4 linked regions of the Homo sapiens genome follow. The protein of the gene in region 4 interacts with the protein of the main gene of each other region in a biochemical or structural test. Each region holds a gene or a part of one and is shown on either strand. Other genes may lie near its edges.

The links.
Region 1: the proteins of ASB11 (region 4) and BIK form a complex in vitro, tested with the Homo sapiens proteins (one study listed by BioGRID).
Region 2: the proteins of ASB11 (region 4) and DIRAS2 form a complex in vitro, tested with the Homo sapiens proteins (one study listed by BioGRID).
Region 3: the proteins of ASB11 (region 4) and PAICS form a complex in vitro, tested with the Homo sapiens proteins (one study listed by BioGRID).

The regions. Positions count from the first base shown.
Region 1 is NC_000022.11:43,120,746-43,127,769, reverse strand, and holds part of BIK (bcl-2-interacting killer), read right to left. Parts: intron 3,755-7,024; 5' UTR 3,748-3,754; coding exon 3,587-3,747; intron 74-3,586; coding exon 1-73.
Region 2 is NC_000009.12:90,639,817-90,647,268, forward strand, and holds the start of DIRAS2 (GTP-binding protein Di-Ras2), read right to left. Parts: upstream 3,009-7,452; 5' UTR 2,936-3,008; intron 1-2,935.
Region 3 is NC_000004.12:56,453,247-56,460,270, reverse strand, and holds part of PAICS (bifunctional phosphoribosylaminoimidazole carboxylase/phosphoribosylaminoimidazole succinocarboxamide synthetase), read right to left. Parts: intron 6,669-7,024; coding exon 6,510-6,668; intron 900-6,509; coding exon 733-899; 3' UTR 1-732. UniProt on the Homo sapiens protein: Bifunctional phosphoribosylaminoimidazole carboxylase and phosphoribosylaminoimidazole succinocarboxamide synthetase catalyzing two reactions of the de novo purine biosynthetic pathway.
Region 4 is NC_000023.11:15,312,630-15,320,381, forward strand, and holds the start of ASB11 (ankyrin repeat and SOCS box protein 11), read right to left. Parts: upstream 3,012-7,752; 5' UTR 2,977-3,011; coding exon 2,796-2,976; intron 1,931-2,795; exon of another isoform or gene 1,858-1,930; coding exon of another isoform or gene 1,740-1,857; intron 1-1,739. UniProt on the Homo sapiens protein: Substrate-recognition component of a cullin-5-RING E3 ubiquitin-protein ligase complex (ECS complex, also named CRL5 complex), which mediates the ubiquitination and subsequent proteasomal degradation of target proteins, such as BIK, DIRAS2 and RPN1.

The sequences.
Region 1 (7,024 bases), on a different chromosome or scaffold from region 4:
GGCCAGGCGCGGGGCCCTGAGGCTCACGTCCATCTCGTCCCCGATGCAGGCCAGCCGCAGGGCCAATGCGTCACTGCAGGGAGCACACACAGGAGTCGGGTGTGGCTGTGCCGTGGAGGCCACATGCACCTGGACCCACCCAGCCAACGGATTGTGTGCAGCTGGGAGTGGCCCAGAGGATAAGAGATGGTGTCAGATTTGGGGCAGGCAGTGAGTGGGCCTCCCTGTATCCCTCCTCCGGCTCCCACTTGGATTCAGAGATACCCATGAGGTCCCATCCGTGGGTGGCCCCAGAGGTGCAAGCTATTTCAAAAAGAATCCTGGGGCAGGCCCACCTGTGGGCTTTGGTGGAAATGGTGGACAAGGGGAACAGGCAGGTCTGGGGGTGCTGAGCCCCCGGATGGCTGAGGCTGACCAAGGGGAATGGACAGGTCTGGTGGTGCTGAGTCCCCCGGATGGCTGAGCCCCCTTGAGCCCCCTTCCCACAGGGGTTGCAGCTTACCTTCCTTTGTGGGAGGTGAGGGGGCTCTAAGACCTGTGTCCTGGTCCCAATCCTGAAACCAGCCCTGCTGGCACCACCCCTCTCCAAATGGGGGGACTAAGAAGCCCCTAGTAGGCCCCCCACTAAACCACATCCTTGATCCTACACCCCACCCGCATTCACTCCCACACAAAGACTAAGACACTCCCCACCCTCCCAGCTTGCTGGTCTGGGCCTCTACCAGGGACCTGTGTGCATTCCATCCCAGTGACTACACCGGGGGAACTCCCAGGGAAGTGGGACTCCTAGGGGCCCTGAGCTGAGGCCGGCCCTGGGCCCTGGCCCCACCCACCTGACCTGCCAATGCCCTGGGCCTACACTCCCTACTTGGAGGGGATGCGGGTGGGAGGGGTACAGGTGTGGGCTGGCAATCAGGGTTGGGGGCTGTGGTCCTACCTTCTGTTACCCTGGGAAACCTCAGGAAAATACTGCCCCAGGCTTCATGTCCTCCAACCTTGTCCATTAATGGACAGGTGCCTCCAGTTCTAAAATCCTTAATGACTAAAAATCCTGAGGCTGAAAAAAAAAATCCTGAGCAGAAAAGAATCCTGTGGAACATGGAGCTGGTCCCTGGCCTGTGGGAGGTGCCACATCAGAGACAGGATTCCCCAGCAGAAAGCAACAGCCCAGGTCAGGCCTGACCATTCTCTTCCAGGCTCAGGGTAGAAACTACTGAGGTCAGCTGCTCCTGGGCCTTCACGTTCCTCATCTGTACCAGGGGAAGAATGAAAGTGCCAGTCCTGGCCGGGTGTGGTGGCTCACGCCTGTAATCCCAGCACTTTTTGGGAGGCCGAGGCAGGCAGATCACGAGGTCAGGAGATCGAGACCATCCTGGCTAACATGATGAAACCCTGTCTCTACTGAAAATACAAAAAATTAGCCAGGTGTGGTGGCAGGCGCCTGTAGTCCCAGCTACTCAGGAGGCTGAGGCAGGAGAATGGCGTAAACCAGGGAGGTGGAGCTTGTGGTGAGCAGAGATCATGCCACTGTACTCCAGCCTGGGCGACACAGCGAGACTCCGTCTCAAAAAAAAAAAAAAAGCCGGGCATGCTGGTGCACGCCTGCACTCCCAGCTACTCAGGAGGCTGAGGCAGGAAAATCACTTGAACCCGGGAGGTGGAGGTTGCAGTGAGCCAAGATCATGCCACTGCACTCCAGCCTGGGTGACAGAGACTCTGTCTCAAAAAAAAAAAAAAAAAGTGCAGGTCCTTCCTGCCGCTGGGATGGCCGGGTGTGCCTGGACATCTGGGTATGCTGCCGTGTGCTGGACATAGCTGGGAGCAGTTGGCAGAGTGCAAGGGTCAGGTCCTACTGGACCTTGGCCCCTGAAACCCCAGGCAAATCCTGCTGCCTCCAGGGTCCTTGTCAGTCCAAGGAAGATCCCTTCTTCATGCCTCAGTGATTCTTTGAAGCCGGGACCAGGAACTGCATGGCCTCCTCAGGCTCTTCCATAGGTTCTGGTTTTCTTTCTTTTTTCTTTCTTTCTTTTCTCTTTCTCTTTTTTTGTGAAACGGAGTCTTACTCTGTTACCCAGGCTGGAGTGCAGTGGTGCAATCTCAGGGCTCACTGCAACCTCCACGTCCCGGGTTCAAGTGATTTTCCTGCCTCAGCCTCCTGAGTAGCTGGGACTACCAGCGCCCATCCCCCCACCCCCGGCCCCATACCTGGGTAACATTTGTATTTTTAGTAGAGGTTGGGTTTCACCATGTTGGCCAGGCTAGTCTCGAACTCCCAACCTCAGGTGATCCGCCCACCTCAGCCTCCCAAAGTGCTGGGATTACAGGCATGAGCCACGGCGCCCGGCCCGGTTCTGGTTTTCTAAAATGAGAGCCGTCAGAGGCAGTTGAACCAGAGCGACTCCATCTTGATTAGGGGCTGGGTAACAAAAGGCTGAGACCTACTGGGTTGCATTCCCAGGAGGCTAGGAATTCTAAGTCACAGGATGAGATAGGACATCAGCATAAGATACAGGTTACAAAGACCCTGCTGATAAAACAGGATTCGGCAAAGACGCCAGCCAAAGCCCACCAAAGCCAAGATGGGCACAAAAGTGACCTCCAGTCATCCTCACTATTCATTGTGCACCAACTATATTAGCATGTTGGAGTCACTCACCAGTGCCACGACAGTTTACAAATGCCACGGCAACGTCAGGAAGTTGCCCTATATTGTCTAAAAGGAGGAGGAATTCTCGGTTCCGGGAACTGCCCACCCCTTACCCGGAAACTCATGAATAATCCACCCCTTGTTTAGCATGTAATCAGGAAATAACTATAAGTATATTCAGTTGAGCAGCCCATGCCGCTGCTCTGCCTATAGAGTAGGTTTTCTTTTTTTGAGATGGAGTCTCGCTCTGTTGCCCAGGCTGGAGTGCATTTTTGCAACCTTGGGTCACTGCAACCTCTGCCTCCTGGGTTCAAGAGATTCTCCTGCCTCAGCCTCCCGACTAGCTGGGACTACAGACATGTGCCACCAGGCCCAGCTACTTTTTGTATTTTTAGTAGAGACAGGGTTTTGCCATGTTGGCCAGGCTGGTCTCGAGCTCCTGACCTCAAGTGATCCGCCTGCCTCAGCCTCCCTAAGTGCTGGGATTACAGGCGCGAGCCACTGCGTGTGGCCCAAATTCTTTCTTGCTTGAGATCTAAGAACCCTCTCTTGGGATCTGGATCGGGTCCCCTTTCTGGCAACAGAGTCACCTCCTTCAAGAGGCCCTGATGTCCTCAGCAGGTCGCTAAGGGCCTGTCTAGCTCCCTGAGGCCCAAACACTGTGCCATTTTGACAGCCAGGGGCCCCAGGTCCATCTTGAGACTGTGAACATGCTGGCTGTCCAGGGGTCTGTGAGCTGGTATCAGGGGAGGGTGGGGCAGCAAAGTGAAGCCGCTCCCAGGGCAGAAGCCTCCATGCCCACATCCGGGAAATCTTCCTCTCGGAGGCCCTGCCTGGGAGGCATCTGCAGGCGCTCCCCCGCTCATAGAATGTCTGCTCATCCAGCCCACCCCTGAAGTCACTATCAGGCAGGGGGTAGGGCAGGCCATGGGGACCTACCTGCCCTCCATGCATTCCAAAGAATCGAAGTCCTCCATAGGGTCCAGGTCCTCTTCAGAGTCAGTCATGCCAAGAACCTCCATGGTCGGGGGTTCCAGGAGCTGCTCATACAGGAGGGTCTCCATCAAGATGTCTCTGGAGAGGGGTCTTACTTCAGACATTTCTCCTCTGGGGCAAAAAGACAGCATATGACTGGACCCCTAAGAACTGAGCAGTCTGGGGGCTCTCTCACAGGATGACCCCCAGATTGTATAGCCCTACTCACCAGCTCTTTTGATCCGCTAAAGCCGTCAATATCCCCCAACCCCAGCTCCCACAGGCATGAATCCTGCTACATGCTGGCTGTGTGCCTCTGGGCAAGTCGCCTAGCATCTCTGTTCTTGGAAGGGAGGAACTTGAAGATGATTCATAAGGGCCCTTTCTTTCTTTCTTTGTTTTTGGATACTGAGTCTTGCTGGAGGCTGGAGGGCAGTGGCACAATCTTGGCTCACTGCAACCTCTGCCTCCTGGGTTCAAGCAATTCTCCTGCCTCAGCCTCCCGAGTAGCTGGGACTACAGGCATGAGCTATGCCTGGCTAATTATTTTGTATTTTTAGTAAAGACGGGGGTTTCATCATGTTGGCCAGGCTGGTCTTGAACTCCTGACCTCAAAGTGATCCACCCCACCTCGGCCTCCCAAAGTGCTGGGACGACAGACATGAGCCACCACGCCCAGCCTTTTTCTTCTTTGTGAAACAAAATCAGAGTATAAATAAATATTAGAAGTTCTCCTCGGACACCAGCCCTCAAGAACCTGTCAAAGCAGAAAACCCAGGCACCTGCTGTCAGCACAGGGGACAGAGGCCAGGCTGCAGGGCGATTCCTCTGTACCACTTAACAGAAGGCTACACCTGTTCTTTGGTGTCTGCTGTTTCTCTTGAGAAGAAAGGCAGAGAGGCAGCATGAGAAAAACGTATCACAATCCCCATTCCCAGAGAGACCATCGCTAATTCTTCTAGTGTTTTTCCTAAACACTTGTGCGCATCACACATCCTTCTTCACAAATGGGATCACCCCATACAGTGTCTTACAGCCTTCTTTACTGGCAGATGCTATTTACCTCTCCGATATCCATTCCACCTGGCTCCTTGCTGATAGAACCCCAATTTTCTTCGGGGTGGCCCTGCATCCTCATTCATCTAAGCCAACCATGGCCCTCCTCTCCCTCAGCTTCCCAGCATCCCTTGCAGCTGGTGACAACCATGTAACCCAGTTCTGGTCAATGAGGGCTCAGAGGCTGGAGGCAGGGGTTGGATGCCAGGGAGTAGACACAGCCAGGGCAGCTCCTTCAAAGATGGAGCTGCAGTGGCTGACCAAGAAGAGCAGAGTGGGGAGGCAGAGAGCGGCCAGGCCTGAGGGTGTCACTGAGCTGTCTCCTCCAACTGTGTGTAAGAAAAATGAACCCAAATGTGTCCTCATCACCATTCACTGAGTTTCCTCTTCTTTGCCACCAAAGGCCTTCCTAACTATGATCATTGCGAATCCCATGCCAGTACATGTTTCATCATGATGGCAGAGAAGGGTTCTGCGACCTGATTCACCATCATGTACCCCACATTTACCCTACAGGGTACCAAACAGCCTTAGATGTAGATGACGATAATGACGATGACTGTGGCACGGAAATCTAATGGCCTAGTTCAAAGCCCGGCTCTGGCAGTTAGCAGCAGTGTGTCAATTTCTTCATCTGTGAAATGGGTTTCATGGTCTGAGAGCCCCGCCCTGGGCTATTGGGAAGACGAAATAAGGAACTCCTTCATGTACTTTGAACAGGGCCTGGCACGCTGGGAGGAAGTTGGCACTAACCATTACCTTTATGCTTCAACTCATTATTTTCTTACCATAATGCCCTGGGTGTTCTTAATTTTTAATTCCTCATGCCTGCTGACAGGACACTCCGCCCTCCCACCATCTCACTGAGCTGTTTGTTCACACAGGACACTGAGGCTTAGAGAGGTTCATGACTAAGCCAAGAAGGGACAGAGCTCCAAGTCTCCCTGACCCCCAGGAGAGAGAAAACTGACGGCAGGCAGGACCCACAGCGCCGCCCTCCCACAGGCCTAGGCACAAGTGTGTGCTCACGACTTGCTTTCAGCATTCAAGGGAGATGGATGGGCCGGGTGCGGTGGCTCACGCCTGTAATCCCAGCACTTTGGGAGGCTGAGACAGGCGGATCACCTGAGGTCAGGAGTTTGAGACCAGCCTGGCCAACATGGTAAAACCCCGCCTCTAATAAAAATACAAAATTAGCCAGGCGTGGTGACATACGCCTGTAATCCCAGCTTGAACCTGGGAGGCAGAGCTAGATTCTGACTCAAAAAGAAAAAATAAGGTTTCACAGATGAGATGTTTTACATTGTATAGACGGCCAGCAGTGTGCGTGTTAAGCTGGCATTAGAAGAACTGTGTCCAGAACTTCCAGCTGCCTTGGGTGTCTATGCAAATGGCATTTCCCTAGGAAAGCAGCTCCAGCCCTTGTTTGCTTTTCCCCCCTTTCCCTTCCCCTCGAAAAGGCAGTCTCCTGCTTTGTGCTCCTGGAGACCCCAGTACCTCCACGCCCCGCAAAGCCAGAGCAACAGTGGAACCTCACCTCACTGTGAGCTGAGCTGTGAGCTGCACCGAGCCTCGCCTTGACCCACTGTGCCCACAGCCCCCTTACCCAGCAGGCATTCCGAGAATCCTTAGGCGCCAGATAGGAAGAAGGCCCCAGCCACCAGAGTGGGCTGCGCTGCCGAGGGTCTGCAGCAGAGTGCAGGTCAGGCCTACCTGAGGAGTCAGTCACCCACGCTCTGCCTGCAAGACCCTTTCAAGCTCCCCACCCTGCCAACCTCCCCATCTGAGTAGACCCAGGACCACATCTCACCTTAGGTTGATACCCTAGCCCAACCCTTCCTGCACCAGCCTCAGTTTCCCCATCTATTGTGTTTTTGTTGGTGGTAGTGTTTTTTTGTTTGTTTGTTTGTTTGTTTTTGAGACAGTCTCACTCTATTGCCCAGGCTGGAGTGCAGTGGTGTGATCTCAGCTCAGGTGCAACCTCCGCCTCCCAGGTTCAAGTGATTCTCCTGCCTCAGACTCCCAGGTAGCTGGGATTACAGGCACATGCCACCACACCCGGCTAATTTTTGTATTTTTAGTAGAGTCGGGGTTTTACCATGTTGGCCAGGCTGGTCTCAACTCCTGATCTCAAGTGATCCACCCGCCTCAGCCTCCCAAAGTACTGGGATTACAGCACTTTGGATTAATTTATTAAATACCCATTACCCTCTACCACAAAGAAGGGACCTAATCTGAACCTTTAACCATCTGGCCTCTGGGCCCAGGCCCTCAGATTGACTTGATATGAATGGCAAAGATCCCATCACCAACTGGGCCTAGGCTGGCCTTAGGGCCCAGATCTGC
Region 2 (7,452 bases), on a different chromosome or scaffold from region 4:
CAGGAAAGAGAAGGACACATAACTCACAGCAATCTGAGATCATTTGTATATTTATTTTTGATAGCGCTTAGTTGGTGATGGCGCCGAACATGTTAGCTTTTAAATTACCGTCAATTGAGTAATGATCTATAGCTGTGCTGGACAATACAGTAGCCATCAGCTGTGTGGGCTATTGAGCACTGGAAGCACAGCTAATCCAAATTGAGATGTCTTGTAAGTCGTCAGCAGGCATTTAAAAAGGTAAAATATCTTACCAGTATTTTGTATGGATTATATCTAAATGGTCATTTTTTATATGCTGGCTTAACTATATCATTAAAATTAATTTCAGCTGTTTCTCTTTACTTTTCCATTACGACCATTAGGACATTTTAAACTGTGCATATGACTCACACATTTCAATTCTATTGTACAGTACAGATTTATAAGAAAACACTTCACTGCATTTAGGAGACAGCTATAAGGAATCTCTTTCCTAAATTTGCCAGTGGCTGAGAGCAAAGAAGGAGAGAATGAGGGAGCATTTGTTTTTATTACTTCATAGAGTCCTTCCCCGTCAGTGAGGAGAGGCTTGCAAGCCATGTCATATAATGAAAACTAAAGCATTATTTGACACCAGTTAAATAACTTTCAGTTCATGTTTAAATATGTATGAATTAGTAAATTTAACTCTTAAAAAGCCATCAGCAATTTTGACAACATAAGAACCATCGTATTCCCTTTTGATTGAGCAGCTGTTTTCCTGGAAAAATCATAACCAAAATCAGTGTCCTACAAATCAGTTCTGCTCTTAAAAAGACATCTGTCCACTGTCAATACTTATACCAGGTAGATAGACTGATGATAGATAGAGGCAATCCACCATATGAGTGAGAATTGGGGATGGTTGTTATCTGAATTGAAAGTTGCAGATCAACACCAAACACTTTTTTTACTTAAAACAGCTGGCAGGCAACCACTCCACCCCAGACAACTGAATGGTCCTCTCACAAAGAAATTCTCTGGTGGAAAAATGTATGGCATTTGTCACAGGGAAATGATGATTTTGCATAAATAAATAGGTTAATTTTCAACATATCAACTCTGGTCTCCAAATTAGAAGAAGAATGAACAATACTTTTTATTATCACAGATACACTCTCTTTTTGACAAAAGCACCCCAGTTGTTTTTTAAAAGGTTTTAATTTTTCAGTAAGATATGCAGTATTTACCACTGAAATAATACATTTCCAATACAGTAAAAGTCATGTGTGGTGTATAGGATACGAACAACATACAATAAATAATTTTTTTAAAAAAAAGGTCTCCTCCACTCTTCTCATGAGGAAACTGCTTTGCTGAGAATGCTGGGTTGTTAGACACAAGCTGAAAAGTGACTTCCACAACTTGGCATTCAATCTGTATGTTTTCTGAGTCGCCTCTTAGGAACAATTCTATTAAAGCTGTAACAAAGAAAGATTCTGGAGGTTTCTACAATAACCATGAACACATACTTCCCATCTGCAGGGATCACTGAAGTGTGAGCAGCAGTTCTGTGCCTTGGTATAGACAGCAATACCCCCTCCTTTCTCCTTCCTTTCCCTGTGCTTGCCCGGGACTATTACCAAATTAAATGCCATATGTTAAATGGGATGAAAATGTTTCCTTGCCACTGTATCTTTTATTTCTATAAAATGAACTATGTGTCTTCCTGTCCCCAGCCCACAAAGCCTCCTGCATTTCCAGAGATAGATAAAATTGTGGACAATTTTCAATTTCAGACAACAACCAAGAAGAAAAAAAAGTATGATTCCCCTACAAATTTGTTAAATTTATTCTAATTTTATCCTCCCCTTTTCTCTCCCTCCCCCTCCACCTCCTCAAATCCAAATGTCACTGGAAATGGAGCACATTGTGACTGATTTGAAATGTAAAATGCTCCAGACTTTTAGCGTTACCTGGAAAATCTTCCTCAAAAATAATATTTTTGAAAATTTTTAGTTTGAAGCAGAAAAGTTCTGATATGCTGGACTAGCTTCTCACATCTGAAGGGATCCATTTAAAAGATAACGAGGGCAAATATGTAAAATAAATTCCTAGGGAAGGCAAGCTGTGTCTCTGCACAGTAGGAAGAAACTGAATTCCACCACAATGTTGTATTCCAGCATTCAATGGATGTAACAGATGATTCACAGAGCTTCTAGTTTAAAAGTCTCCCAAACCCACATAGAATGTGAATTGGAGTTTTAAAGAGGAAAAACAGCATTTTTCAAGAGAGAAGGAGAGAGGCAGGTTCCCACAACGCCAGAAGCCAGCACTGCTTTTCAGGCGAGCCTGGGAGCTGTCAGCAGTCATTGTCATCTGATGGGAAACCACAGTCTTACAACTAAGGACTGGATGCAGCCCCTTGCCCATCTTCTGCTCTTACAACAAGGAAGCGGAAAGGAGCACATGTAGATATCATGAAACACATTCTTTAAGAAGACAAACAAAAGATTTAGACAGGTCTCGGCCAAGCGCATGAAGTGAAGGAGTCGAGGATGAAAGCATGCCGAACCAAACGGCAGTCCCTAGCGTGCTTGGCTTTTTTCTCACTTTAGACCACATCTTCTTACTCTTTTCCTAAATCCATTAAACTTCCACATTAACAGAAACACCTGCACAGTAGAATTTTCCAAAACGGTAAATCCTGTTTTGGAAGGAATCCCTAATAATACGTAAGATACAGATTTTTAAAAAAGAACATGTTTTAGACAAGGACAGCATGATGCTCACCCTCCCTAACAAGGATACAGAAATGCAGATTTCTTCCCCTCTTACCAACTCCAGTACACGCTGACTCGCCCTCCCTGAGAGCGGTAATCCCTTTCCAGGGGCTGGCAAACAATCATGCCAAAGCCGCCCGTGCCCCAATGCGGACGCAGCGAAGCCACGGCAGAAGGGGGAAATCGGTTACCTGGGGAAGAACACAACTCCGCTCAGAGCTTCTTCAGAGCTCCACTCGCGCAGGACAGGGCAGCGCAGGGTGTGTGGATGCGGCTCCTCCCGGAGGCAGGCGCAGCGCACTCCCTCCCGCCGCCGTGACGATGCTGTCAGCTGCTCGCCCGCCGTGCGCCCTGCACCGCCCACCGGCCGTGCTCCCTGCGCCCAGCGCCCTCGCGCTCCACCCGCTCGCAGCCCCTGCACCTGCGCTGGCCTGAGCCGCTCCGGCCTGGCACTGTCACCGCCGCTGCACGCTCCTCCTACTCTCTTCAATCTCTGCCTTCTCAGATGTGCCAACTGCTGCAGAGGCTGCTGCTCCTGCTTAAATGGCGCCTGTTCGCCTCCAAAGAGCTTTTAGGTGCCACCTACTGCATGCTCTTGGAATAGATGGCGAGGACTGGAATTTTCTGATAATTTAATGAATTAAAATAATTCCATTGAAAGGGAACCAGATTCTTTTGTTCGCATTGCGAACTATAATCGCTACTAACCATATAGACTTTTTTTTTCCATTTCCAGATTTTAACTTTTAAAAACCGACTCATTTAAAGGCAGACGAAATGCCCTGCCCCATACCATAGCCAACCACACAGTGTAGATTAATATATTCTAATTTAATAGGATCCTATGACAACACCGCCATTGGCAAGCTTGGATTAGAATTGCTTTTTCACTGAGTGGTTTCACATTAGCATTTCAAGCAAATGACCACGTTTATTTCCTGACATTGATAAACAATTTTGTCAAAGACGCGTTGATTAAAAAACAGGTGAATCAGCAAGAAAAAATATTAATGGCTAACAATTCTGTGCAGGCATTTTTAAAAGTGCTTGAGCATAACATTGATCCATGTTAAGTTTAAACTACAGACTGAAGGAAGATTTCTTCTCTTGGTTATATTACTCATTCTTTTGTAATACCAAATATGCTAAAAGACTTGAGCAAAATTAATATTCTGTAGTTCTTTACATTTGATTTTTGTTGTAGAATCCTATTTATCTGTTTTAATCCCGTCTTCACTTTCTAAATAATTAAAACATGTTAACCTTTGAAGTTCATTTCCATAGTAAAATTCTGCCCTGCTATTCACAGGAAATATGCTTTTTAAAAATCATACTTAAAAACTACGCATTTTACAACTTATAGTCAAGAAAACTTATTTTATTCCCCAGTTCATCCTAATTCTGGCCTTGATCCTACAGCCATTGGAATATAAAAATAAAAATACACTCTTTTTACTAAAGTCATTTAAGGCTACTTCAACAAACCTGCCCCTACACTAATGATGTCTAAAAGCAGAGTGGTCACCCTGTCCTCCACAGTCTCCTCTTCATTGCAAAGGAATATATGGCCACTCAGAAACCCATCCCAGAGGAGGCTCCAAATATGATGACAGTGGATTCTGAGCACTGCCTGATGCAGTTTCTGGGTCCTGAAACAACCTTCCAGTTTTATAAGTCAGGATGTTGTTTTCCATGACAACCAAAATGTAGGTTATCAGGTTAAATGACAAAATGGAATTTAAGAACTAAACAAAGGAGGGTAAAAAGATTAAATAAGCAAAAATCCAGTGCTAGTATGGAAGCAGGGAGAGCAAATCAGGAGCTGATAAAGAGAGCCAGTTCTATGCTGAATATCCCACAATGCAGAAGAAGCCTGCCTTTTGCCACATGCCATCATTATTTGTTCTGAGAATGTGAAGCAGAGGCCCAAAGGCCTCATTTAAACAAGGAGCAACTCACTTAATATGATGTCTCTGGCCCCTTTGGCACTCCCCACAATCCCTAGACTTTCATCAGCCAGAAGGAGCAGATTGCTCCCAAATTCCTCTTTTAACTTCCCCTTAACTTACATCCTTCTAAGAGCCTGACCCATTTGCTTCTAGGCTAGGGGCTCCTGACATCTGCCTGCACATTAGAATCAGCAGGGGAGCTATAAATACATTTTAAAACAAGGTCCAATTTCCAGTCCAGCTCATGCCACAACTGGCACAGGACCTCCGTGGATGGGATGCAAACATCCATATATTTCAACGTGTTTATGTGAAGTTGCTGTTCGTGTCCCCCAAAAATTCATATGCTGACATTCTAGTTACCAACTTGAAGAGGTGGGACCTCTGCACAGAGCTCTCATGAATGGGATTAGTGCCCTTATAAAAGAGGGCCCAGAGAGCTAAGGCATCGTCTATGAACCAGGAAGCAGACTCTCATTAGACACCAAATCTGCCTTGATCTTGGACTTTCCAGCCTCCAGAACTGTAAGCTATAAATTTTGGTTTTTTATAGGCTACCCAGTCTATGTTTGTTTGTTTTTTAATAACAGCCAAGAGTAAAACAGAGGTTAAGGTCAAGAACCATTAATCTAATATAAACCTTTGTTACTCAACGTGAATTCGCGGATCTGCAGCATCCACATTACCAAGCAACTTATTAAGAATACAGACTTTCAATCCCCACTCCAGAACTTCAATCTCAGATTCTGACTTTAATAAAATCTCCAGGAGATTCCCAAGTTTGTTAGAAGTGGAGAAGCTCCAAGCCAGAGTACCTCAAATGCTTCAATATATCAGAATCGCCTTGGAGGAGGGGGCTTGTTAAAACACTTCCAGCTGGGCCATGGCCTGGTTTTCTGATTCTGTAGGTCCGGGGTGGGGTCCCTGGTAATGCTGATGCTGCTTAGAGCAGGAATCCAGATGAGCTATGCCACTCAGGTCATGCAGACACCAGCAGCAAATGGTAGTGGGCTATTCAATCCTCAGGTGGAAGAAGTATAACGGTCCTCCATTTTGTAAAGTAAATCAATCCAGTGTCACTCCTTTTGGGGAAGCCCCATCCTTCTCCACAGTCTCACGGATGCACTTTCCCCAGAGTCTTTAGGTGGCTGTAAAAAGAGCCTCTTCAGCCGAGTTCCTGCTTTGCTCTCACAGCTTAGGACTCTGCAAGCTTACACTTGGCCCTTGTGCAAATGAGAAGATGTCCCCTCTCTTGGTGGACACAACCCTTCCCTCTGCTCAGACAGTGCGTGGCTTGAGGGGCAGAAGACCCTTTGTGCAAAGAACTTCCTGGACAGGTGCAGACACTCTGGATACCCAGCTGGGTGAGGGATGCACCTGCTGAGCCCCAGGCCACTCTCACCCTCTGCTGGTCACCTTGAATGTTATACAAACTGCACATCCCTCAAGGTACACATCAGCTCTGCTCCCCTACCAGGCCAGCATGGTCTGTGTGATGGCTCATAGCTCCATTTATGACCTTAGTCCACAGAGTGCCAGACACTGCCAACAAAGAGGAAGAGCCAAATTCTGACACTGGGGACACAAACTAAGGGAGAAGGCAGCAGATGTACTGATCAGGTGCTGAGCAAGCAAGCATGCAGTGAATGAAAATACACACCTTTGGACTATGTTCTCCATGGTTTCTTTGTCTTACTTTTATCCTGTTCTCCCTAAGACAGTGGTTCTGGGGACCAGCAGTATCAGCAATTCTGGTAAGTTGTTATAAATACACATGTCAGCTCCACCCTGGACCTGTTGATTCAGAAACTCTGAAGGTGGAGCCCAGCTATCTGCTTTTTAGCAAACATTCCAGGTGATTCTGGTGCACAGCAGAGTTTGAAACTCATTGCACTACAATTTTTTTTAATTATACGTTTAGCAAATGCCCTATCAACATATCTCCTGTAAAATTCTTGAAAAGTTACCATGCTGGTAGAATGTGCTCAAGGGAACAATGCACCCCATCTGCTGTGATGTTTCTGGTAGTGAAGACTCAGCAGATTTTCCTGACATCACAACATTGGTTTCTTCCCAGCTGTCCCTTCTAAAGTTCTACCATGCAAGGGTGGGGCACATTCTTCTGCTGCCCAGAGGACACTCCATTTCCCAGCAGTCTTGGCACCAGCCAGGATGTCCACCTCCAGGACTGGCCTAGGTCTCTCTGTACTTCAAGCCCCAGTCACCATGCCCTCCTCAACAGGGTCACTCCATCCTAATCTCTGGAGGGGCCAAATCCTGGAAACTAAGGTCACAGCCCTGAAGTGCAAAACGCTCTGCAGATTGTGGAGAAAGGAAGCACATAAAGGCTTCCCCCCAAAAAGGAAGAATAAAATAAAATTTTCTTTTCATTCTTGTCCATGAGTTTACTGGTCCAAACATAAGAGCTCTGAAGTTGGGGTGGCCCTTCAAAGATAGCCCACATTGAGGCAAGAAAGCCACTCTGGATCAGTCATTTTCTGTGTGCTGTCTCTCCTCACTCCTTAGGAATGTAATCTTGGGCAAGTTGGCTGTCTTTGGTAGAAGATAATGTCAAGGAAGGGAGTTACCTGAGAGCCTTCGGCAGTGATACTCCAAAATTATAGATGTGTGATATATTTATAAACTAATTTTAGTGCAATGAGTTTCAAACTCTTCTGTGCATCAGAATCACCTGGATTGTTTGCTAAAAAGCAGAGTGCTGAGCTGCACCTTCAGAGTTTCTGAATCAGTAGGTCCGG
Region 3 (7,024 bases), on a different chromosome or scaffold from region 4:
ATGAATAAAGTTGGGAGCATTCTGTTTTTTCATGAGTGCCCATGGGACAGACAGGGAGAAATGGACAGTTGAAAGTACAAGTCTAGACAGGCACAGTGGCTCATGTCTGTAACCCTAGCACTTTGGGAGGCTGAGATAGGAGAATTACTAGGGTTCAGGAGTTTGAGACGAACCTGGGTGACATAGTGAGAGCTCATCTCTACAAAAAATAAAATTAGCTCGGCATGGTGCTGCAAGATTATAGTCCCTGTTAGTCGAGAGGCTGAGGTGGGAGAACTGCTTGAGCCCAGGAGGGAAAGCAGCAGTGAACTGAGATCACGCCACTGCACTCCAGCCTGGGCGACAGTGAGACCCTGTCTCAAAAAAAAAAAAAAAAATGCAAGTCTGGAGAAATATAGCTGGGAGTCAGTAATGCCAGTTTTAGCTGAGGGAGTTAAGATCATTTAATCAGTGTTAAGGAAGAAACTCAATAGTAGTGACCACCAATACTTAAGGAAAAAGGATAAAGTAAGAGGAATGATAAAGGCTGGCTGAAATATCTTGGTGTCTAGCCTAAGAAAGGAGGGGTTAGATGCTCATGTTTATTAATATGGATCTAGAGAAGCATTTATTCACTAATACATTTTATTTGTGTTCTCTAATTTAAAATTACCTTTTCATCTTGCTTGATTTTCCTTCAGCTAAATTAGAAATTTGTAGTTTTTCCCCTAAAAAATTCAATGGCATTCTTTCTTATAAATTACATTCTCTGATTTTCTTGTCAGCCTGCTTCAAGGAAATCCATGTGTTCAAAATGCTTGCTCGCAGTTTGCTCCATACCAAATGGTTGCTTAACCCAAATATCTGAGCAGCAAATTGAGCTGATCCTTCTGGAGAAAGTACGGTTGAACAGCCAAGACCTATTGGTTCAGCAAGGAAAAGACAGAAAATTGAGCTCAATTAGTAATGAAAATACAACCTTACAAAAAATTTTATACTCAGAGCAGTCCTGCCACAGAAAATAAAAAGCTACTGCATTATTCTAATCTAAAGTAGAATCTGTACAACTGTCTTTAATACCGGAGTGGTAAAGTGATTACAAGAGGAAAAGCAGTCAGTATTACCTGCCATGAAGAGATATTTTATATATATCATCTATCACCCTTCTTATAGAACTCACTTACAAAGAAACTTATCTTTTTGAAACTTCTGTTCACATACACTATCCCTTTCAATCCCTGGCGAAGAACAACTGAAGCAAAATAAGGGTCAAGGTAAGAGTACAAAAGTACCTGTTCTTAGACAAACTTGAGCTATGTTGTTTTGACAGTTTTCTAGCTAATCTTTCTATCTGCATTTGAACTATTTTAATATTTTTGAGCAGTAAAAGTCAAATCCGTAGAATAATTTTAGGAAATGTCAAGTTATAAATAAATATTAATAAGATCCAAGACAGCAGAATAAAAAAGTAACATCCTAGGGGCCACATGTCTGCTCAGGCAGAGTGTCTTGAGGTGGTACTATTATGTCTAGTGTTTGCTAGAATCAGGGGTACTATTATGTCTAGTGTTTGCTATAGTTCCAAAAGCTCGATTTTCCCGATATTCTTGGAATTCATCAGGCTCTTTGACTCCCATTATCCACAAGAACAGAGTCAAATACAAATCACAAGGCCAATTTACTAATTTGTATTAATACGTTATTTTATGGAGCTCCACCCCTTAATATGTGGTATTGGTCAAGTTACTTCACGTTAATTTATTCTCCTCTTCTGTGAGAAGGGAATTTTAACTAGTAGCTACCTGATGTGACACTTCAATGAGTTAATAACATAGATAAAGTGCTTAGAGCATTGCCTGGTACACAGTATGTGCTCCAAGAATGTCAACCACTATTGTTAGCACGCTAGGTAGAGTGCTCCACTCTAATATTTGAAATAACCTGTGCCTCCTGCCCAGGACTCCCTTTCTGGTAAAAGAATAGCTTAAATTGCAGAAAAAAAAAAAAAAGTTATCTAGTGAGCATGACATCAGAGATGAGAAATATGGGCGGTCTTCAGGATTTTACACAGGTTACTGTAAAACTACTCCTCAAAAGATTATCCCCAATTCTAGTGATCATTATGTACAAGTCTTCCAGATTATTTGTCACTCCTGAAACAACACTACTATAAAAACTGCCAATTTTTTGCTTATCATGCTCCCCTTTTGTAAGCTCCATGGGTATCTATACAATTCCTCTGGCATAAATTTGGTTACAGCTTTATTTGTAGCCGCTGATTTTTAGCTTGAGACATTTGTATAATCACATCTTGTTAAAGATAGCTTAGGCACAAAATTTAATTCTCAGAGCCTATAAAAACAGTAAAGGAAATAGGCATGAACACACAAGGCCAGATAACAGCAGTAACATTTTGGCAACTGAAAGGCAAACACAGTGGTAGCTAAGTTAGCAGACCAAGAAAACTTAATCAAAATTAGCTGGCATGGTGGTGCATGCCTGTGATTTCAGCTACTTGGGAGGCTGAGGCAGGAGAATCGCTTGAACCTGGGAGGCGGAGGTTGCGCCATTGCATTCTAGCCTGGGCAACAGGAGCGAAACTCCATTTAAAAAAAAAAAAAAAAAAAAACTTAATTCTAAACTGAAAGCAGGGAAAGATGAGAAGCAACATGACTGACATTACAGAACTCCCCCAAAGGGTGACTGACTAAATTAGTGGCACCAGATACCTTTGGAAGGGAATAGGGACTAAGAAGAAGATGACTGACTCGAAGTCTAAGAAGAAGCTAGGTCCTCAAATCTCCTTCCCCACTCCATCTACCTGAGTAACTGCCTCTTTAAAGCACTGTAGCAATTTTTTTCTTTTTAAACATTATTTTTTTCTGAGACACGGTCTCGCTCTGTCATCCGGAGTGCAGTGGTGCAATCACGGCTCACTGCTGCCTCAACTTCCCAGGCTCCAGTGATCATCCCACCTTGGCTTCCCAAGTAGCTGGGACCACAGGCGTGTGCCACCATGCCTAGCTAATTTTTGTATTTATGGTAGAGATGGGGTTTCGCCAGGTTGCCTAGGCTGAGCTCAGGCAATCCACCAATCTCTGCCTCCCAAAGTGTTGGGATTATAGGCATGAGCCACCAAGCCAGGCCTTTAATTTTTCTGAAGGTAAAACAGACTTCAGTCTTGGCGTCTTTGAACTAGGGGACGCCAGGCACAGACAACTTTTGTTCTCTGAGTAATTCTGGTCAACACTTAAGAAAATACCTAGACACTAATGTGAGGGGTTGTTTGAAGAACAATCCCTACCAGATACACCCCACAGTGAAGCCCAATTTTGACACGGACCACCCACTTGAAGTTTCCAATTGTTTTTTATAGTATTCCACTCTTAAAAGCGCAAACAGCCAAGGATTACCAGACAGCTGAAGAAAGTAACTATATGCAACAGACTATAATCATCTCCAGAGAACAAAAAAGAGCTTTTGGAAATTTAAAAACATACAAACACAAACAACAACAACAACAAAAACCCAGAAAACAAAAACCAAAAGAAATATAAAAACATTGTGTAAAAAAAAAAAAAAAAACCCCAGAGGCAGTGGTTCCTACCCAATCCCAACACTTTGGGAGGCTGAGGTGGGAAGATTGCTTGAGTCCAGGAGTTCAGGACAAGCCTGGACAACATACGGAGTGCCCATCTCTACAAAAAGTAAAAAAATTAACCAGGTGTGATGGTGTGGGCCTGTAGTCATAGCTACTTGGGAGTTTGAGGTGGGCGGATCACATGAGCCCGGGGAGTTCAAGGGTCCAGTGAGATATGATCATGCCACTGTGCTCCCACCTGGGCAACAGAGCAAGACCCTGTGTCAAAACAAACAAAAAACACCTGTATCCAAAATGAAGGCCGGGCACAGTGGCTGACGCCCATAACCTCAGCACTTTGGGAGGCCAGGGCAGGCAGATCACCTGAGGTCAAGAGTTCGAGACCAGCCTGGCCAACATGGTGAAACCACATCTCCACTAAAAATACAAAAATTAGCCAGGCGTGGTGGTGCATACCTATAATCCCAGGTACTCAGGAGGTTGAGGCACGAGAACCGCTTGAACCTGGGAGGCGGAGGCTGCAGTAAGCTGAGATTGCGCCATTGCACTCCAGCCTGGGCAAGAGAGCCCGACTCCGTCTCAAGAAAAAAAAGAAAAACTCAATAGAAGGGTTGGAATGTAAAATTTAGGAAATATTCCAGAAAGTATACCAACAAGACAAACAAGTAGAATAGAAATCAAGGGAAGCCCAAATTTATTCAAATTCAAAAATGAGAAGAGAGAATATGGAGGGGTATGAAAATTAAATAATTCAAGGAAAATGGGGACTAAGAAATCAGAATTTCAGATTAAAAGAGCTCACCGAAAGTCCATAATGAAAACAGACTCAGCACATCACATCTGTGTAAAATTTAAGAACAATGAAAACAGACAAAAGATCCTGAAAGATTCCAGAGAGAAACAAAATTCATAAGAAACCTAGAATCAGACTGGTGGAAAAGCAATGGAGTCCTCAACTGTGGATGCTAGGAGACAGTGGAGTAATAATGCTCCCAAAATTCCAAAGCAAAATGATTTTCAGCATAGGATTCTATTTCTAAACTATCAAGTATAGGGCTTCAATATACACATTTTAGATACACAAGGTATCAAAATTTACCTTTTGTATTCTTTTGCCCCCAAGTTCAAGAATGTACTCCAACAAAATAAAAATAAACCAAGTAAGGGGAAAACATGGGAGATCCAAGCCTAGAGAAAGGCAAAATGAGTCTCCAAAATTATGGTAAAGGGGGATCCTAAGACAACAGCAGTACAGGATGCCTAGAGAGAAGCCAGTCCACTGGACCAGGTTGGAGGGCTCAAAGACTTAATATACTTGACACATATCAAGACTGGATATATACAGATATGAGAAAAGTTAGGGATTTTAGTAATAAAGCAAATCTCCTACTGAAACAATATTGACCCTCATAAACTGCAGAATATCAGATCATATCTTGGACTATGATGAACGAACCACAACACTGTTACGTGATCCAGTTCCATCAGCCAAAAGGGGACTTCCTTATGTTATTATCTTTTATCCCCAATTTTTTATTTTGAGACCGAGTCTCACTCTGTTGCCCAGTTTGGAATCCATTGGTACAATCTTGACTCACCTCTGCCTCCCAGGTTCAAGCGATTCTCCTACCTCAGCCTCTGAGTAGCTGGGATTACAGATGCTCACCACCATGCCTAGGTAATTTTTGTATTTTTAGTAGAGATGGGGTTTCACCATATTGGCCAGGCAGGTCTTGAACTCCTGACCTCCAGAGATCTGCCCACTTCAGCCTCCCAAAGTGCTGGGATGACAGGCATGAGCCACTGCACCCAGCCTTATCCCCAATATTTAAGAATAAAATTGTATTCTCTCTACAGAAGTAACATGATCACATTTACTTTAAAAAAAAAAATCAATACCATGAATTCTTGGGAAAAAAATATCTAAACTTGATTTTATTACAGATCTCACCATCAGTTTATAGAAAATATAGGGAATGGAAGAGCATGTTTACCACCACCTAGAAATGTAAGAAGCCAAATCCAAAATATAGAAAATTCTATTGAAAAAATGAAAGGGAAAAAGGGAGGATGAATTGTTATATATTTAAAAAATCAAGAGATTATCAACTAAATGCAATATAAGGACTGTGGTGGATCTGAACAAACAGATGAGACAATTAGAAAACTTGGACCCCAACTAAAAATTATACCTTAAGAAACTACCACTAGTCTTTCTTAGGTGTGAATATGGTATTGAAACTGTGTCCCCAAGAGTTAAAAGATACCAACAACTAACAGAAATTCCTGAGTTTGCAGAATGGTAGATTAAACAATATGGCCAACTAGAGTCTGCACAGAACCAGCTTACTGATGTCACAGGCCCAATTTCCACCACAATTCATTCTAACTCCCCCAAATTTACACACGTGATCCATGAAATAACATGAAGAGATAACTGCACATGCCCAAGGACTTTCTAGACCTCCCCTTTCCTTCCACCAATCACCTACTAATCCCAGAATCTATCCCCTAAACCTTTTCTAATAAAATTGCTGCCTTAAAGCCAGCACAGATTTGAGCTGGACTCATGTCTCCTTGTTGGTCAACTTGAAAGAGGAAGCCTTTCTTTCTCAAAAACCTGGTGGCTTAGATAGTACTGGTTTCTAATGCATCAGATAGTGGGCTCCTTTTGTTCTATAACAATATCATGATTATGATTTAAAAACTAGAGCCTGTATTACTTAAACATATACTTAAGTATAAATTACTATAACGTCTAAGATCTGCTTTAAAATAATCCAGCAGGAGATGGCTGTAGACACAACAAGATGTTAATTGCTGAAGCTAGGTCATGGGTACATGAGATTTTATTATGCTATTCTGTCTACTGTTGTGCATCTGTTAAATGCTTGTAATGAACAGTTTTTAAAAATTCAATGTATCTTACCACTGGGTAGTCGAAGAGAAGACCACACATCCTGAACTCCCCAGTCTGGTGTGAGGGGAGGACAGCTGATAACTGGATATGCAGTGTTCCCAGACATCACTGGTCCCAAACCATTACTTCTGCCTGCCACTGCCACAAATACAGTAGGAATGCCATCCCCTAGGGAAATGACAAGAGTATAATTATGCTAAACATTCAAAACAGATTTAAAGACAGGGTTTTTTTTTTTTTTTGGTTTAAGGCCTATATGTTTTAATTACTTGAGGTCCTTGAATAGTCTTCTCTGAAAAAACATAAAAGATACTATTATTACACATATATTCAAAACATAAGGTTACTCTGCCACTTACTATAAGTCAAGTAATAAAGTAGCTGGAATCGGTTTGGTTGTTTTTGAGATCTACATTATAAAGGGGATAGCAGGGTGTCAGTGAGGGAATAGCTCATAGGCCTCTTCTATTGCTGTATAGGCTGGCCAAAGTGAAGAATGACACCATCTGAACAGGTGTCTTTCT
Region 4 (7,752 bases):
CTAGCAGACTCAAGAAACTTAACCTTGGGCTGGGACTTTTGTAAGTCAATTAGCTAATTTACTGATTAAATGTCATATATTTTCCCAACAAACATTTGTCTGACCAGTGCAAAAGTGACCAAAAGCAAAGGTGATTTCTGGTTTGAGTTTGATTTCTGGTTTGAGTTTAACACTTCCACAAAATTTTGTTCTTGATTTTTAATACACCTAAATATATTGTTATGGGATAATTTAGGAATTAGAGAGACTGAGGGGTTGAGGAGGATTTATTGTTTAGGTGTATTGGCCTAGTTGCATTAATATTTAAAGGACTGGGTTTTGAATAAAGAGTTGTTATTTTTTAAGTATTTTGTGGGGCGGGGGAAGATTTGTAATAATATAGTATCTGACTGTTAACAGTGGTATCAAAAGAAAAACACAGAACCATGTGAAAAATACTGGTCCAGGCATGTTACTGCCTACATTCTTATAGAAAGACTTATTTAGCGGCCAGGCACAGGTGCTCACACCTATAATCCCAGCACTTTGGGAGGCCAAGGTGGGCAGATCACTTGAGGTCAGGAGTTCGAGACCAGCCTGGCCAACATAGCGAAACCCCATCTCTACTAAAAATACAAAAATTAGCCGGGCGTGGTGGCGTGCGCCTATAATCCCAGCTACTCAGGAGGCTGAGGCACGAGAATTGCTTGAACCCCAGAGGAGGAGGTTGCACTGAGCTAAGATCGTGCCACTGAACTCCAGCCTGGGTGACAGAGCAAGAATCCATCTCAAAACAAACAAAAAAACAGAAAGTCTTATTTACCAAATCTTGGTAAATTTGGGGGTGGGGGGATTCGTGTATATGTATACACACACACACACACATATACATATATATATGAAAGAAATAAAACTGGGAAATTAACATGCACCATTCCCTGCCTCTTTAACAATAATTGAAAAATGTTTTTGACCTTAGAATACTATGCTACTTGCAAATTAACCTATTTTAAGAGATTGAACAAGTAAAGATATTTGCACTACAGAATGAACGAACTGTATTTAAGAGATTTGTATTCCAGCTCCAGATTAAATTCAAACCATGCTTACATGGGTTTTGACTATAAGGAGGTTTTATACCTTTTTTAAGAGTGCACTTGAGGCCGGGCGCGGTGGCTCACGCCTGTAATCCCAGCACTTTGCGAGGCCGAGGCGGGCGGATCATGAGGTCAGGAGTTCAAGACCAGCCTGGCCAACATGGTGAAACCCTGTCTCTACTAAAAATACAAAAAAATTAGCTGGGCATGGTGGCGTGTGCCTGTAATCCCAGCTACTCAGGAGGCTAAGACAGGAGAATTGCTTCAACCGGGACCTGGGAGGCGGAGGTTGCAGTGAGCCGAGATGGTGCCACTGCACTCCAGCCTAGGCTACAGAGCGAGACTCCATCTCAAAAAAAAAAAAAAAAAAAAAGAGTGCACTTAATTAAAGACCACAAAGACAGAAATAATGCGCAGGTGCAACAGGAGAAAACATTTGTAACATGTTCTTGCCAATATTGACTTTGTTGGACTTCATCTAATTTAGACCAGAAGAATGATTTATCTATGAGAACACCAAAACTATTATTGAAAATTTTAGAAAGCCCTTGCCCAAATTGACAAATTAAATTAGAAGATAACTTTTCAGATCATGCTTAACTTGAAACTTATCAGAAGCATTACTTTTTTTTTTTTTTTTTGTAACTAGTCAAAGTAACATACCTCCCTGAAATGTGTGACAAATATAATCCCCAAAAGAAATCTCTTTCCATGGTCCGGACCTTCTGATACGTTCTGAAACTTCACAATTCTTCTCATTTTCCCCAGTTAATTGAAGCATTCTGATGCTTCGTCCTTGGAGGTCTTATTTCTTTAGATAAGACTGCTGTTGTCTAGTGTCTTCTGAGTTGTCTAGTGTATTGGAATCACATAAGACTATTTTGAAAGAGAATCCTGGATGCAAATTGAAATGGATACTAGATAAAGAATGATGTAATCCTGGAACCCCTGCAAACACTAAAAATACACGGGGAAATTCTGAACTCTGTTTATGAATAAATACTCCTCTATTAAGTGACAATCCCAGGAGTGACAGGGATATCTGACTCATTTACTTTTGTAGCATCTCACCACAATTAAAGTAAATCATTTCTTGAAAGAAATGGACACTATTCTCTACAAAGCATGAGAATTTAAAATGTTTTGCCCAAATCTTGGCATTTCATGTTAGAATAAACTTTGTTTGGAGTGCTTTGCATGCTACCATATAAAATGGGTTTAGTGAAGAGCTTTTCCTGACAGTGACAAGTGGTTAATCAATTCCAGTTGCAAATGACAGCAAAAAAAATACACATAGCTTGCCACGTTTGCTGCTTTAATTATAATTTATTAGTCATTCTATTTCCTGAGAGAATTTAGTCTGGTTAGAATGCCCTTCATTGTTAAAGTTTGCTTTAAAATATTAAAGAAAATAATTATATACAAGTAATTACTTTGGCTAGTAGAAATGAAGTTTCTCAAAATACTCTTAGTAAGCCACTACCTATTTACTTCTTAAATAACAACTGCTACAAGATCTACGAACTTGCAAAAAATAAAGCTGAAAATCCTCCACAAATTGATGCAGCCAACAGCATTTGCTACTTTAAGTGACAATTTTTCAAACTACCCACTTAAAATCAAAGTATAAATATAATCTGCCTTCCAGAAATACTAGTCATATGAATTATCTAGGAGGGATTTTCTTTAAATATTAGGAACAAATTCATGTACTTTTACCTGAAATTCCACCATAGATCTCTTCTGCTATCCTAGCCGCTTCTTTTCTATTTCCTTTGACGATATAGAAATGGGTTAGGAGAGCCAAAAAAACTTTAATTAAAAGCTTAAAGAAAAAAAACGTAGCAAACATTGTAATAAAAATGTTTTTAAAGCCATAGAAAACAGGACCATCTTCCATTTTGGCTTATGCTCTGTATAGGGTCCTAGGACTGTAAAATTTCACTGAGTTATAATTGGTATCATATGACATCTATTTTAAACCTTCTAGCACTCAGTGCTCCTGTTACCGAGATCTCTGTAGGTTCTAATCTAACTGATTTGGCGACTGCATGTGCTGACTCCACAGCAGTGTTAAATAAACTAAAGAAACTTCCTTCTAACCAGAAACATCCAATAGTTCTAGAACTACATAACTCAGTACTATCTAACAGATAAGATTCATATCCAAACATTTTATATTCCTAAACCCCTATTTTTCCTATTTTATGTTAGAAAGCAGGGTTGGAAAGATAGAAACTTCTTGGCTTCCACAGAAACAAAGCAAGTTATTTGACATACAAAAGAAGTGCAAATATGCTGTATGTTCTAAGTGGGAAATACTACTCCCTGGAGCATTTCATTTTCTCTTAATTCTGAAGTTTATAGAGGATTAAATCCAAATCTAAAATATGACCAGTTAAAAAAGACCATTTACCTGGCCGGGCGCGGTGGTTGACTCCTGTAATCCCAGCACTTTGGGAGGCTGAAGCAGGCGGATCACCTGAGGTCAGGAGTTTGCGACCAGCCTGGCCAACATGGCGAAACCCCCGTCTCTACTAAAAGTACAAAAATTAGCTGGGCGTGGTGGCAGGTGCCTGTAATCCCAGCTACTCAGGAGGCTGAGGCAGGAGAATTGCTTGAACCTGGGAGGCGGAGGTTGCAGTGAGCCGAGATCGCGCCACTGCACTCCAGCCTGGGTGACAAGAGCAAGATTCTGTCTCAAAAAAAAAAAAAAAAAAGACAATTTACCCTAAAGCTGTATGTATGTATGTATGCATGTATGCACGTATGTATGTATTTAGTTTTAAGATGGAGTCTTACTCTGTTGCCCAGGCTGGAGTGCAATGGTGCGATCGCGGCTCACTGCAACCTCTGCCTCCTGGGTTCAAGCGATTCTCCTGCCTCAGCCTCCCAAGAAGCTGGGATTACAGGCATGCGTCACCACGCCTGGATAATTTTCGTATTTTTAGTAGAGACGAGGTTTCGCCATGTTGGCCAGGCTGGTCTCGAACCCCTGACCTCAGGTGATCCACCCACTTTGGCCTCCCAAAGTGCTAGGATTACAGGTGTGAGCCACTGCACCCGGCCAAGCCTGTATTTAATAAAAGGCCTATCTTGGATGCCTCTCCAAGTAAGTGTCACACTAGAAGCATCAGACTACTCGCCATGGTAGTTCCATCTGGGACAAGGTCCCATGGCAAGGTTCCCTCCTGATCATTCACTTGCATTTCAAGCATTGGTAAAGGTGGTGCCCATTTCTGAAAAATGTGGGCTATCCTTGATCATGGAAGAGTCATAGTGAAATGGACAAAAGAGATGCCCTAGGTTCTGGATGAAGTACCCAAATATTTCATGAATCAACCTTCTCTAGTTGGGCAATTTTCTCTTATCAGCTGGCCAACACAAGTGAAATGGGTTTATTTTTAGTTTTCCTCATCACTCTAGGTCTCTGCCTTCATTCTTGGCTATGTTCGATTTTGTAAATTTTAAAAATCAATTGAAAAGACAAGCCAAAATATAGTTATACAAGTGGCCTAATAAATCTTAACAAATGATTTATGCAAAAATATGGGAATTTCTCCTAGCATGCAGGCAAATTAGAATGACTGCCTGGTTAAGAACTGTTTCACTACATTAAAAAGCTGACATGTAAGAATACAATCTTGAGTCACAACATACAGCTCATCGATTTCAGTGTATCAGAGCACTATAAAGACCTTGAGTCGTCTTAACTCTCAAGGAACAGACATTAACATAAGATTTACTTTACTGAGCTTATATTACCTGGTAGAATGCCAGTGTATGAAAATACATGAATACAACTCTTTTAGTCCTTTTCATTTATCTTTCTTCAATTATACTCTAAGTAGGCAATCATTTAGTCATGTCAGACCAGTGATGTACATTGTTCTATAACATTATTCAATCTTGTTTTGGTCTTTTCATTTAAAACATGGCTGTCCTATGTTTTACACGCCAAAAAAGTTGGCCATGAAAAGCTCAACTTTATTAAGGTTCAAATGGGTGTCTATACTATTTCTGAGAGGCCATCTTTTTTTTTTTTTTTTTTTTTTGAGACGGAGTCTCACTCTGACTCCTAGGCTGGAGTGCAGTGGCGCAATCTCGGCTCACTGCAAGCTCCGCCTCCCGGGTTCACGCCATTCTCCTGCCTCAGCCTCCCAAGTAGCTGGGACTACAGGTGCTCGCCACCACGCCCAGCTAATTTTTTGTATTTTTAGTAGACACGGGGTTTCACCGTGTTAGCCGGGATGGTCTCGATATCCTGACCTCGTGATCCGCCCACCTCGGCCTCCCAAAGTGCTGGGATTACAGGCGTGAGCCACCATGCCCGGCAAGACCATCTTTACTATATTTGAACATTACATTTGTGATGGGCATAAAAGGCTACTGATACATAAGGACAGTTGATTCATGCTATCTTTCACAGATGAAATCATCAACAGCACCAAGGTTTCTCAGCCTCAGCACTATTGACATTTTGGGACAGATACATGTGTTGTGGGGGATGGCCCAGAGCATCGCGGAATGCTTAGCAGCAACCCTGACCTCTACTCACTTGATGCCAATGCCCCACCCCACCTAGTAGTAACAACCAGACATTGCCAGATGTCCCCTGGGAAACAAAACTGTCCCCCCAAGCCCTAGTTGAGAACCACTGAGCCATACCCAAATAGAAATGATAAAGGATAAAAATCAGTTCCCCCAAGTACTAAAGGCTACAAATCAAATTCTACATAGAACTTTTTCATAATTTTATATTAAAAAATCCAGCCACAGGATGATACAATTCAACATCTAGCCACATCCATTTGGGAATGCAGAGATGGATAAAGAGGCTTTAAAATTACTTCACAAAAGTAAACACAGACCTATACTACCCTGACTTTGCCAAAAATAAGTTTTGGCATAAGATAAATCAAAACATAAACATAGGTGACTGCTTTCCACTGCTTCCCACAAAAGGAGTGGGAGAAACTAAATCAGGGATGTCCAATCTTTTGGCTTCCCTGGGCCACGCTGGAAGATTTGTCTTGGGCCACACATAAAATACACTAACAGCAGATCATGAGATCAGGAGTTCGAGATCAGCCCGGCCAAAATGGTGAAACCCCATCTCTACTAAAAAATACTAAAGTTAGCCAGTGTGGTGGTGGGCGCCCGTAATCCCAGCTACTCAGGAGGTTGAGGCGGGAGAATCATTTGAACCCGGGAGGCGGAGGTTGCAGTGAGCCAAGATCGTGCCACTGCACTCCAGCCTGGGCAACAAGAGCGAAACTCCGTCTCAAAAATATATAAATAAATAAATGAAAATACCCTAATAGCTGATGAGCTAAAAAAAAAAGAAAGAAAGAAAGAAAGAAAATCACAAGTCTCATAATGTTTTAAGAAAGTTTACAAATTTGTGTTGGGCAAAGTAGAAAGCATAATTATGTAGCTCACATACACAGTATAGTTTGTAGATATTTTCCTTGTCTCACGTGATAATGCTAGGGCAATGAAAAACAAGGGCTTATTTGGGTAAGGAAACAAAGGCACAATTGAACTCGCTATTCCATGAGTGAGAGAGAGAAGATATTCTAGAAACAAAAAATGACAGAGTAATTCATCGCCCAAAGGGTATTTCTTGTTTTACTAATAGACCAAGCAACACATCCAAATTGCACTGAAAAAGAATGTGTCGGGGGCAGGGATAGCCTGTTCCACTAGTAAATAATAGTCTGTTCATAAAATAAGACAAACTCAGAAAATTATCAAAATGTCATTCTGGTCTTTATTTTTGGACATGTAGCATGTTTTAACAAATCAGTTTTTCATAGGCAACCTTTTGAAACATCAAAAGAAATACAATATATTTTTCACAAATTTCTCATCACTGTAAATTCACTTTAAAATCAACTAAGTAGCAGGGTAGAGCAATGTGTTTCCATATACCGACCAGTGCAAACTGACAGTTACAATTAAGGTATCCAGAAAGGTTGAAAATTAAGATTTACGTGAAACAAATTTACTTCCATTTGTTAAAAAAAAGAAAAATAATAATTTGCAAATCACATGTTTTACAGGCAAAGGCAACTAACTTTAGATCTTATTTCCATCTCAAATAAATGACAGTTTAAGAATTAAATGACAATTTAAAAAAATTAAGCAAAAATATAAGGAAAAAATGGTGGCATGCCTCTAAAACCTGTTGAATAGAATAATGGCCAAATATTACAGTTTCTCACTTTCCTATGAATACTGGCACTGTTTATTTCATGTTTATATGTGAGTTTCTATGCATAAAAATCCCAGTAAGACTGAATAGTTTAAAGATCAGTCCATTTTTCTCCAACAAAACCCCTAACTTCTAGATTTTAAAAATTGCACTCTTGCTTTTGCATTTTAGTACAAACAAAACACAAATATATTTCTTTTATATCAGTGCAACCAGTTAATAGGCATGTTATTTTTTAAAAAGTAATAAATTTTGTGAATGTTGTCATTTTTAAAAATCCTATACAGAATCACAACACTGTCAGAATCTATGTAGTGCACCCACAAGTGCCTTATTGTTTTGAATTCACAGTCCTTTTCTCACAAAAACCTTAAGAGTTCAAAGAATTCATAATACACACCATGTGGATAATTTGGGGTTAAAAAACCCATGGCTCTGGGCAACAACAATGACAGTTAA